Linked DNA regions of Homo sapiens. The protein of the gene in region 1 purifies or fractionates together with the protein of each later gene. This does not show direct contact. Each region holds a gene or a part of one and is shown in the gene's direction. Other genes may lie near its edges.

Region 1 (3,654 bases):
ACATTTTGGATATGTCATTTGTACCACACTCGTTCTTGTCCCCTGTCCCACCACTATGGTGTCTGTAATGATGCATCTTTTTATTAGGTTGATAAGATGACTAACCCTGGAATTGAAAAATCATTTTTTAATTGATTGCTTTACCAAGACTAAAAGCAGATGTCACAAAGTATATATCAGCTTTTAACTGGAAAGGCTAATAATTAGACTGTGTTGTTGACTTATTTAATATAATACAGATTTTTAAAAATAAAATAAATTTATAATATGTCTTTTCTAAAGAAATAAACAATGTACTTTCTCGAGAATAAAAATTAAAAATAGATAAAAGTAAAACAGTTAATTTTTAAAAATAGTAAAATTTTCAAACGAAGAAAAGAAAGCAGTACATCAAAAGGCATGTGTGAAAATGTTCATAGGAGCACTAATCATAAGGACTCCAAACTAGAAACAATCTAAGTGTTCATCAGCTATAGAATGGAGAAATAAATTGGGCATAGTCGTACATTAGAATACTGTACGACAGTGAAAATGGATTCACTTCTCATGGTTATTACAAAAATAATGTTGGGCAAAAGAAGCCAGACATACCAAAAAGTGTATTATAAACAGTGCAATAATATTATAAAGTAATGCCAGTAGTATAAAAGTCAGGAGAGGGAAGAGAAGTTATTGACTATGGGAAGGGGTGTGAGAGGGACTTTTGGGGGTATTGGTAATGTCTTGTTTTCTGATCTGAGTGGCATTTACATGTGTGTTCTGTGTGTTCAGTTAGTGAAAATTCATCAAACTGTTCATTTACGATTTGTGCCTTTTTTTGTTTTTTGAGATGGAGTCTCCCTCTGCCGCCCAGGCCGGAGTGCAGTGGTACGATCTTGGTTCACTGCAATCTCCGCCTCCCAGGTTCAAAGGATTCTCGTGCCACAGCCTCCCGAGTAGCTGGGACTACAGGCGTGTGCCACCATGCCCAGCTAATTTTTTGTATTTTAGTAGAGACAGGTTTTCACCATGTTGCCCAGGCTGGTCTTGAACTCCTGAGCTCAGGCAGTCCAGCCATCCCGGCCTCCTAAAGTGCTAGGATTACAGGCAGGAGCCACCGAGCCTGGCTGGTTTGTGCCCTTTTGTATCTGCGTGTTGTAGTTAAGTAAAAAGTTTTACTTAGTAAAATTGTTCTCACTATTTTAATTAATGTGATTATTGTGTAGGTTAAGTTTTAAGGGAAGAATGTGTTCAAAGTTCTAAAAGAACTGCCATGGTACTACCTGGGTGGAGCAGCCTCAGAAATTTCTGTTAGCAATACTGAAACATAAGTCACATATTACGACTTAGTGGTTGTGTATATCAGTTATTAAATGATCTAGCTTATTGATGTAAGCAATTTTTGTTCCCTTAGATAATTCTTTCCTGTCACTTTTTTTTTTCATTCTCTCCTTGACTTCCTTTTTTCTGGGAAATTATTTTGAAGGGCACTGTGATCTAGAGGGAATGTTGCGATTTTAGAGTCAAAGAGGCCTCAGTTGGAATCCTAGCTCCATCGCTTAGTAGCTGGATGATTTGAAACGAGTTACAAGTGCTGAGTCTCAGTTTTTTCCATCTTCATTGGTGAGCTAATATTACATACTCAGAAGGTATGCTAAGGATTAAATCATGCCTAGTTTGATTTAAAGCACATTGTGGATGTCAAGAGAATTTATCCTGCTTTCCTTCCATCCATCTACCCTGGCTCTTACTGATAGATATGAAGAAAGTCCACATCACCCTTACACTTGGGCTCTTGGTAGGATAAGAAAAAATCATCCACAGTATGTAGTGACTTTTTTAGGGGAGGTGTCAACACAGAAAATTGTAGAACTGCTCTGATACTATAAATATGTAAGAACTTCATTTATGTGAAAGCCACTTCTCTTCCCTACTAGTCACTCACCCAGCCTTGCTACTTCTACCATATACATATCATTGCTGCACTTTTTTACAGTTGCTTTGAATATGGAAGAAACAACTTTCCTATGGAGGGTCACAATGGAAAGGAAATTACCTGACCCTAAAGCTAAGTAAACTTGGAGTCTAAATAAATAATTGGCTTTCCATTGACAGGAAGTATACCTAAACTTAACCTTAGAGGCATCCCAGTGAGTATCTTTTCTGTTGATGAACATTTGTATTACACTAAACCTGCCACTTGAATTTCATTTTCTACTTTCAAGTCTTGATCTATGATTGCAAGTTTCAAGCTATGTATTTCTTATTTTTTATCCTCTCTCAGGCTATCTAAATCCTTCCATTTTAATTTTCCCATGAATATGAACAGACTTCTAACAATCAGAATAATTAGACTTATACTGAATGCCTTGTACCTATCAAGAGTTCTATGCCCAGTAGTATTTTGCAAGTAGTTATTAGGTATTGGTTTATTTTTAAATATTTGTAAGATTTTGTCCTAATTTAGCCCCATTGTTTTGCCCAGTTGTACAGTTTAACAGGGCGAATTACAAATGCTTTGTGTGGGTGTTTGTTTTTTTATTATTTATTTATTTTTTGAGACAAGAGTTTTACTTTTGTTGCCCAGGCTGGAGTGCAGTGGCTCAATCTCAGCTCACTGCAACCTCTGCCTCCTAGGTTCAAGCCATTCTCCTGCCTCAGCCTCAAACAGCTGGAATTACAGGCATATGCCACCATGCCTGGCTGATTTTGTATTTTTAGTAGAGATAGGGTTTCTCCATGTTGGTCAGGCTGGTCTCGAACTCCTGACCTCAGGTGATCCGCCTGCCTTGGCCTCCCAGAGTGCTGGGATTACAGGCATGAGCCACCGCCCCGGCTGTGTGTGTGTTTACACTACTTCCATGTGTATATAGTTAAATTTCATGTGAGCCTTATGTGAAAATCAGACCTATTCCTAATCATAATACACATTTTACAGTTTGAGTTACTTTCAGATTTCTTTGAGAAAGCAAAAGTGGCACCATCACCTTTCACCAATGATAGCTACCATGTGTTGCATTTCTATGTCCCAAGCACAACGTATACACATTTAAGATCAAATCTTCACTATAACCTCATATGGTCAGTATCTGAGAGATGAGCTTAGTGCCTGAGCCTCAGAACCCAATATAGTTGTTTAGCTAAGGAAATACCAAGACAGTAGATACTTTGCATGTTATATTTATAAGCCATGTAACACATAAATATGGATGATTTGAATCAGTTGATTGTGGAGGGAAAGGCAGCCTCACTCATTCCTATTAATGAAGGCAGCGTCTCCTTGTCCCAGGACTTGTTCATTGTTATCTGAAACTGGAGATTCAGGTGTTTCCAGAGCCCAGCTTTTCACTGCAGTGAAGTCTGTGCCCTACTTCACTAAAGAAACTCTGGTTGCAAGGTTTAGTTAGCTATCACTTTGTGAGCCTGGAAGAGCTAATTCAAAGTCATTGTTCTGTTCTCTGCTTCTTTGTTGTTGGTGGGGTGATATTGATCCACTTGGATTTGAAAGAATTTCTTATAAAACCTGTCACATAAGGCCAACCAAGTATGATTTACTACTATCATTCTATGGTCTGTATTACAATTTTTTATTTTTTTAGAGATAAGGTCTCACGATGTTGCCCAGGCTGGATATGAAATAGTTTTTATATACTGTGCCCTGTTGTCATTTGTGTG
Region 2 (3,469 bases), on another chromosome or scaffold:
CCAATCATAGTAAGTGATTAACTAGCAAAAAGTAAAGCTATTTATAGCAAATTTCTAGATCATTAGAAAAGCACTGGTAGTTGTACAATATCAGTGTTGACTTTGAACTTCTTTAACGAGATCATGAATTCTTTTCCCTTAGCCAAAACATGAAATATTTAACCTAGTTGTCTCTAAAAGTTTTGTAATCATGAGTTAGATATATGTCATCTCCTATTCATTGCTTTTATGTGATCAATAAATCTTTTACAAACCCAACTACTCATTTCCTTCCTAGTAATACTTTGCCTTTTTCACTGTGTATGGAATGAAACATGTAAAGCTGTCACAATCAATGTTTTTATCTGATAATATTAAATATTTTTTAACTTAAAATAGGCCACTCAGTTTGTTCTTCAAGTATTTTAGGTAATGGTTGTTTTTAGAATTTGTGAACCAGTGTCTCTTAATTTTCAGTTTTCTTTATATAGAGGTTATAATAGTCTTAAACCCTAAAAATGTTTAAATCAAAAAGGAATTAGGAAAAACATAATGATAGGTATATTTCTATTTGTGTAGGGTTTTTTAATGTACAGCTTTATTGAGATATAATTCACATACCATACAATTCACCATTTAAAGTATACTATTCAGGCCAGGCACAGTGGCTCACGCCTGTAATCCCAGCACTTTGGGAGGCCAAGGTGGGTAGATCATTTGAGGTCAGCAGTTCAAGACCACCCTGGCCAACATGATGAGACCCCGTCTCTACTAAAAATACAAAAATTAGCCAGGCCTGGTGGTGTGCACTTGTAATCCCAGCTATTCAGGAGACTGAGGCAGGAGGATTGCTTGAACCTGACAGGCAGAGGTTGCAGTGAGCTGAGATCAAGCCACTGCACCCCAGCCTGGGCAACAGAGCAAGACTAAAAAAAAAAAAAAAAAAAAAAAAATGTATTATTCAGTGGTTTTTAATATATCCACAGAGTTACGCAACCATCACCACAATTTTAGAACATTTTCATCACCCCAAAAAGAAACCTTGTACTGATTAGCAATGGTTCCCTATTTCCCCCAACGCCCCTGTATTTCCTAGGGCTACCATAACAAACTACTGCAAACTTGGTGGCTTTAAAGAACAGAAATTTATTCTCTCACAATTCAGGAAGCCAGCACTCCTAAATCAAGTTGTCAGCAGGGTTAGTTCCTTCTGGAGGGTCTGCAGCAGAAACCACACATGCCTCTCCCCTAGCTTCTGGTGGTTGCCAGCAATCCTCAGCATTCTTTGGCTTGTAGCTGCAGCACTTCAGTCTCTGTCTCTGTCTTCGCATGGGCTTTTTCCCTGTGTGTCTCTGTATCTTCACATGGTGTTCTTATAAGGACAACATAGGAGCCAGACACAGTGGCTCAGGCCGGTAATTTCAACACTTTGGGAGGTGGAGGCAGTAGGATCACTTGAGGCTAGGAGTTCAAGACCCTGTCTCTACAAAAAAATAAAAAGTTAGCAGGTGTGGTATATACCTGCAGTTCTAGCTACTCAGAAGGCTGAGGTGGGAGGATCACTTGAGCCCAGGAGTTCAAGGATGTAGTGAGCTATGATTGTGCCACTGCACTCCAGCCTGGGTGACAGACTGAGACCCTGTCTCATTAAAAAAAAAAAAAAAAAAGCTGGGCGCTGTGTCTCACGCCCTTAATCCCAGCACTTTGGGAGGCCGAGGCGGGTGGATTACCTGAGGTCAGGAGTTTGAGACCAGCCTGGACAACATGCCAAAACCCCGTCTCTACTAAAAATACAAAAATTAGCCAGGTATGGTGGTGTGCACCTGTAGTCCCAGCTACTCAGGAGGCTGAGGTAGGAGAATTGCTTGAACCTGGGAGGCAGAGGTTGCAGTGAGCTGAGATTGCGCCACTTCATTCCAGCCTGGGTGACAGAGCAAGACACCTTCTCAAAGCAAAATACAAACAAAAAAAGGACAACATAGGGCCCGCAATCCAGTATGACCTTATTTTAATTACACCTGTAAAGACCCCATTTCCAAACGAGGACACATTCTGAGCTTCTGGATAGACATGAATTTGGGGAGATGCTGTTCAACACAGAAAACCTCCCAAACACCATAGCCCTAGGCAACCACTAATCTACTTTCTGTCTCTAGATTTGATTATTCTGAACATTTTTAGTAGGGTTTTCAATTTTGCACTCTATTGAAAAATGTGGCTAGTTTAATTTTTTGAGAGTGAAATATCCATTTATTATATTACAATATAGCTATATAATTTGACAATCTCCTATGTAGAATATACAGTACCTGTCTAAGATATTTTAAGTACACCAGCATTTCCTTTTAGGCTATGTCAATTGACTAGAACACACTATAGTAAATACATACACAGGTTTGATGTGGATTATAATGAAGTGGTTTTTTTCCTTAGTAATCTGTATCATAATTCCCAATTAGTGTCTTTTTCTGCCTTGGAAATTTCTACAGAATTGTCAATATCAGGATAGTGCGTAAAAGTACACTCACCATACTGACAAGCACATTTTCTATTTTGTTGCCCAAAACTCCCTGTCCTGTAAAGTGCTCTGCTTGCTTTTTAGTAGACATTTGATAAGTTAATGTTATATCCTTTGCAATGATATTATTTTGATGACAAAGTAAGTTTATGCTTTCAAAAATCACAATTCGGTCAGAAAAGTTTAGCATCTTAAAAAAATTGTTGCTATTTGAAAAAAACAAAACAAAACATATACTTGTGACTTTGTGGTCCAGCTGGCAAAAACTTGACATATCATCCCATGAAAATTTTAAGTCATGAATTATTTTGACATGACAATATTGCTAACAAAATCAAAATCAGCCGTTTAATAAACAATTATTCCACCAAGCAGTCTATATTCCTTTTGCCATATATACTGTTAACAGCAAAAATTTTGGATTTGCTACATATGCATGGGTAAAGGAGGTATTTAGACGAAATTTTGCTTTCTAAGGTTATACCAAAGACTTGAGAAAATCCAATTTACTCCCACATGGCACCAAACCAGCTCTCACTGAGAGTCATTATTTGGACCCTTAAGTCCAAATAATCTGTTCTTTTAATGAAAGGACATTTTACAGGTGGCATCATTCAGCGTTTGATAAATCCTTCCTTTAAATAGCCTCCTCCCTCTTTACAGTTGCCTCAAAAGACTTCAAAAAGCTTGAATCCACTTTTATCTTTCTCACCTTCCTCCTTCCCAAGATGATTCACACTACTTTAGAAAAAATAAAAATTTTATTTAAAAAAGTCTGTGCTGGGAAATTGTTTGAAATGTTGCCCTTATTAACTAGAAATCTTTTTACTCTCCAGAGCTTTACGCCCTCTCTCATAACAGATTTAAAATGGGGTTCAAGATCTAGTTTGAATCTTATAGAAATTCCCTCAGACTTTATCTTCTAACCTTCTTTAATTTGTTCCCACTATCTACGTTTTCCAAGAGTACTTT
Region 3 (3,654 bases), on another chromosome or scaffold:
ACCCGCCACCATACCCGGCTAATTTTTTTTGTATTTTTAGTAGAGATGGGGTTTCACCATGTTGGCCAGGCTGGTCTTAAACTCCTGACCTTAAGTGATCTACCTACCTCGGCCTCCCAAAGTGCTGGGATTACAGGTGTGAGCCACTGTGCCCAGCCCTAAAATCATTTGTTTTTATTTGTGTAACTGTTACGTGTTGATACTGGTAGATCTAGTTATTTCATTTTAAATATTCTGTAGTATTTTGTTAAATGAATATCCTAACTTACTCCTCAATGATAGGCACCTCTTCAGTATTGTAAATATGTGGCAGCATCCTTGAGCAAAGCTTCTCGCGAGTGTATCTGCTTAGAAGTAGCGTTGCTGGGTTGTGGGTGTGTATTCTTAACTTTGATCTAGAAGATTGCTCTCCAAAATGGTTCTACCAACTTACCATTTGAGCAGTGTGCGTTCTTCTTTCCTCACACCACCTATCTGGCTTCTTAACCCATCTGGAGAATGGGAAGGGAATTTTATTTCTCTCACTTACCATATTTCTAATGAGGTTGAATATTGCTTTTTTTTTTTTTTTTTGTAGAGACAGGGTCCTGCTGTGTTGCCTTGCCTGGTCTCAAACTCCTGGCTTCAAGTGGTCCTCCTGTCTTGGCCTCCCAAACTGCCGGGATTAGAGGCATGAGGCACTGCACCCAGCCAAATAGGCACATTTTTAAAAGTCTTGGTTTTGTTGTTGTTGTTGTTGTTGTTGTTGTTGAGATGGGTCTCGTTCTGTCACCCAGTCTGGAATGCAGTGGCATGATTGTAGCTCACTGCATTCTCAACCTACTGGGCTCAAGTGATCTTCCCACCTTAGCCTCCCAAGTAGCTGGGACCACAGGTGCACGCCACCATGCCCAGCTAATTAAAAAAAAACATTTTGTAGATGGGATTTTGCCATGTTGCCTAGGCTGGTCTTGAATGCCTGAACTCAAGCAGTCCTCCCGCCTTAGCATCCTGAGTTGCCGGGACTGCAGGAATTTGTCACACGCCTGGCTAATTTTAATTTTTTGTAGAGTTGGGGGTCTTAATATGTTGCCCAGGCTGGTCTTGAACTCTTGGACTCAAGTGATCCATCTACCTCTGCTTCAGCCTCCCAATGTACTGGTTCAGGTATGAGCCACCATGCCCAGCCTAAAAGTCTTAATTCACCGTTTGTTTCATTGTTGCTAAGGGCTGTGTGACTCACTTTTTTTTTTTTTTTTTAATTTTTTGAGACCTAAAAGTCTTAATGCATCATTTGTCTCATTGTTAGTAAGGGCTGTGTGATTTGCCCTTTTTTTTTCCTTTTTTTTTTTTTTTTTTTTTTTTTTTTTGAGATGGAGTTTTACTCTTGTCGTCCAGGCTGGAATATGGTGGTGTGATCTTGGCTAACTGTAATCTCCACCTCCCAGGTTCAGGCAATTCTCCTGCCTCAGCCTCCCAAGTAGCTGGGATTACAGGCACACCCTACCATGCCTGGCTAATCTTTGTATTTTTAGTAGAGATGGGGTTTCACCACGTTGGCCAGGCTGGTCTGCAATTCCTGACCTTAAGTGATCTGCCTGCCTCGGCCTTCTGAAATACTGGGATTACAGGCATGAACCACTGTGCCCAGCCCTGATTTGCCTTTTTAATGCCATTTTTTAGGTGTGTCAGCAGCCTGAGTGTGGGAAATGTAAAGCCTGCAAGGACATGGTTAAATTTGGTGGCAGTGGACGGAGCAAGCAGGCTTGCCAAGAGCGGAGGTAGGTCAGGCCGAGTCTTCCTCCTGTGGCAGAGGACTTGCCAGCTGGTGGCAGATGCACTGTGGAGAAGGGCCTGCATGTGTGGGACAGCACCAGGATTCCTTCGTTAGGCATTGTCTCAGGACCTGTCCCTGTTATGAAGAAAACAGCCCCGGTTGGTCTTACTTAGAAAAGGGGCCTTAGGTATAACCAGTGACATTGCAGGTGTCCCAATATGGCCATGAAGGAGGCAGATGACGATGAGGAAGTCGATGATAACATCCCAGAGATGCCGTCACCCAAAAAAATGCACCAGGGGAAGAAGAAGAAACAGAACAAGAATCGCATCTCTTGGGTCGGAGAAGCCGTCAAGGTAACCCTTGGAGCCCCTTGGTCAGCTCACTGCCATGTTCCCAATAAGCAGGTTGCCCTCTAGTATCTCGCCAACCTGACCTCTCAGGCAGCCTGAGCCCCGGCACTAAGAAACCTGTCTGTTTGCCCCTGAGAAGAGCGGGACTGGCCAAGAGACCATGTTCCATGGCTCAGTACCAGCAAGGCATTTTTGTGTGGCCACAAGGCTCAGTTCTCCTAATGTCCCAAAATGGGCATTTGACACAGTTCTAGGGGCATCAGGCAGGTGAGCCCTCATAGCTTGTTTTTCTGTTTTGTTTTGTTTAAGATGGAATCTTGCTCTGTCACCCAGGCTGGAGTGCAGTGGCACGATCTCAGCTCGCTGCAACCTCTGCCTCCCAGGTTCAAGCGATTCTCCTGCCCCACCCTCCTGAATAGCTGAGATTACAGGCGTGCACCACCATGCCAGGCTAACTTTTTTTGTATTTTTAGTAGAGACGGGGTTTCATCATGTTGCCCAGGCCATTCTCGAACTCCGGCCTCAAGTGATCCACCCACCTCAGCCTCCCAAAGTGCTGGGATTACAGGCAGGAGCCACTGTGCCTGGCCCCTCATAGCTTGTTTCCAAGAGAGCTGTCACAGCCCCCTCTGGTGTGGGGTGGGTCTTTTTGGGGCACCAACAGATGGCCTCCCATCCGTTCTGTGGTCATTGGCTTCACTGAAGGTCAGTTCCTTTACCACAGTGTGAGAGAGAGGAGTGAGTATCCTCTGTGTTGCTTCTCTGACGTCCATAAATTAAAGATGCAATCAGTTCACTTAATTATGAGGCTTGCCACCTGCTGGCTGCCTGGGCCGTGGCTGAGCCCCTGCAGGAGGACAGACATGGGTACTGCTGCATGGCATGAGTGCCTCTGCAGGGTAGGGGGCTGGGAGGAGGCTGGGGCCACGAGGCCTTGCAGAGGTGACACCTGGGCTGAGATGGAGAAGGTCAGGTAGGACCTAGCCACACGACCTGGGGGAGAGCTGCACTGAGGTGGCAGTCAGCTTACTTTGTTGGAGAAAAGGAAGGAGGCCCCTGCAGCTGGAGTGGCTTGAGCCAGGGGATGATGGGCAGGACAGGGGTCAGGGTTCAGGCTGTGGCCTTACAGACCATGGTGAGGTATTGTGGGCTGTGCTGTTAAAATCAAATCCTGGGACCCGAGTGGCAGAGCAGAAGTGGGAGGGACATGGATGCCCTTGGCCACAGCATCTGGCCAAGGAAGGTGGATGTTCTTCTTTTTTCTTATTATTGAAGCCCTTGTAGAACAGGATGTTCTCTTTAGCAGCAACTCTTCATTGACTTCTTAATGAAATCGAGTCATGTCTTACTTTAAGTAACAGAGGACCATGCAAGTCAAGGCCAGCAAAGACCCTCAGAATGATCCTCCATGAACTTATGCTCTCATTTTCAGACTGATGGGAAGAAGAGTTACTATAAGAAGGTGTGCATTGATGCGGAAACCCTGGAAGTGGGGGACTGTGTCTCTGTTATTCCAGATGATTCCTCAAAACCGCTGTATCTAGC

What was found.
Region 2: the proteins of NR2C2 (region 1) and KLHL7 purify together in Homo sapiens (affinity purification with mass spectrometry; 2 studies listed by BioGRID and IntAct, with this or other methods). This does not show direct contact.
Region 3: the proteins of NR2C2 (region 1) and DNMT1 purify together in Homo sapiens (affinity purification with western blotting; 2 studies listed by BioGRID, with this or other methods). This does not show direct contact.

What each region holds. Positions count from the first base shown.
Region 1 is NC_000003.12:14,954,023-14,957,676, forward strand, and holds part of NR2C2 (nuclear receptor subfamily 2 group C member 2), read left to right. Parts: intron 1-3,654. UniProt on the Homo sapiens protein: Orphan nuclear receptor that can act as a repressor or activator of transcription.
Region 2 is NC_000007.14:23,175,047-23,178,515, forward strand, and holds the end of KLHL7 (kelch-like protein 7), read left to right. Parts: 3' UTR 1-2,868; downstream 2,869-3,469. UniProt on the Homo sapiens protein: Substrate-specific adapter of a BCR (BTB-CUL3-RBX1) E3 ubiquitin ligase complex. The BCR(KLHL7) complex acts by mediating ubiquitination and subsequent degradation of substrate proteins. Probably mediates 'Lys-48'-linked ubiquitination.
Region 3 is NC_000019.10:10,149,856-10,153,509, reverse strand, and holds part of DNMT1 (DNA (cytosine-5)-methyltransferase 1), read left to right. Parts: intron 1-1,662; coding exon 1,663-1,760; intron 1,761-1,964; coding exon 1,965-2,112; intron 2,113-3,541; coding exon 3,542-3,654. UniProt on the Homo sapiens protein: Methylates CpG residues. Preferentially methylates hemimethylated DNA. Associates with DNA replication sites in S phase maintaining the methylation pattern in the newly synthesized strand, that is essential for epigenetic inheritance.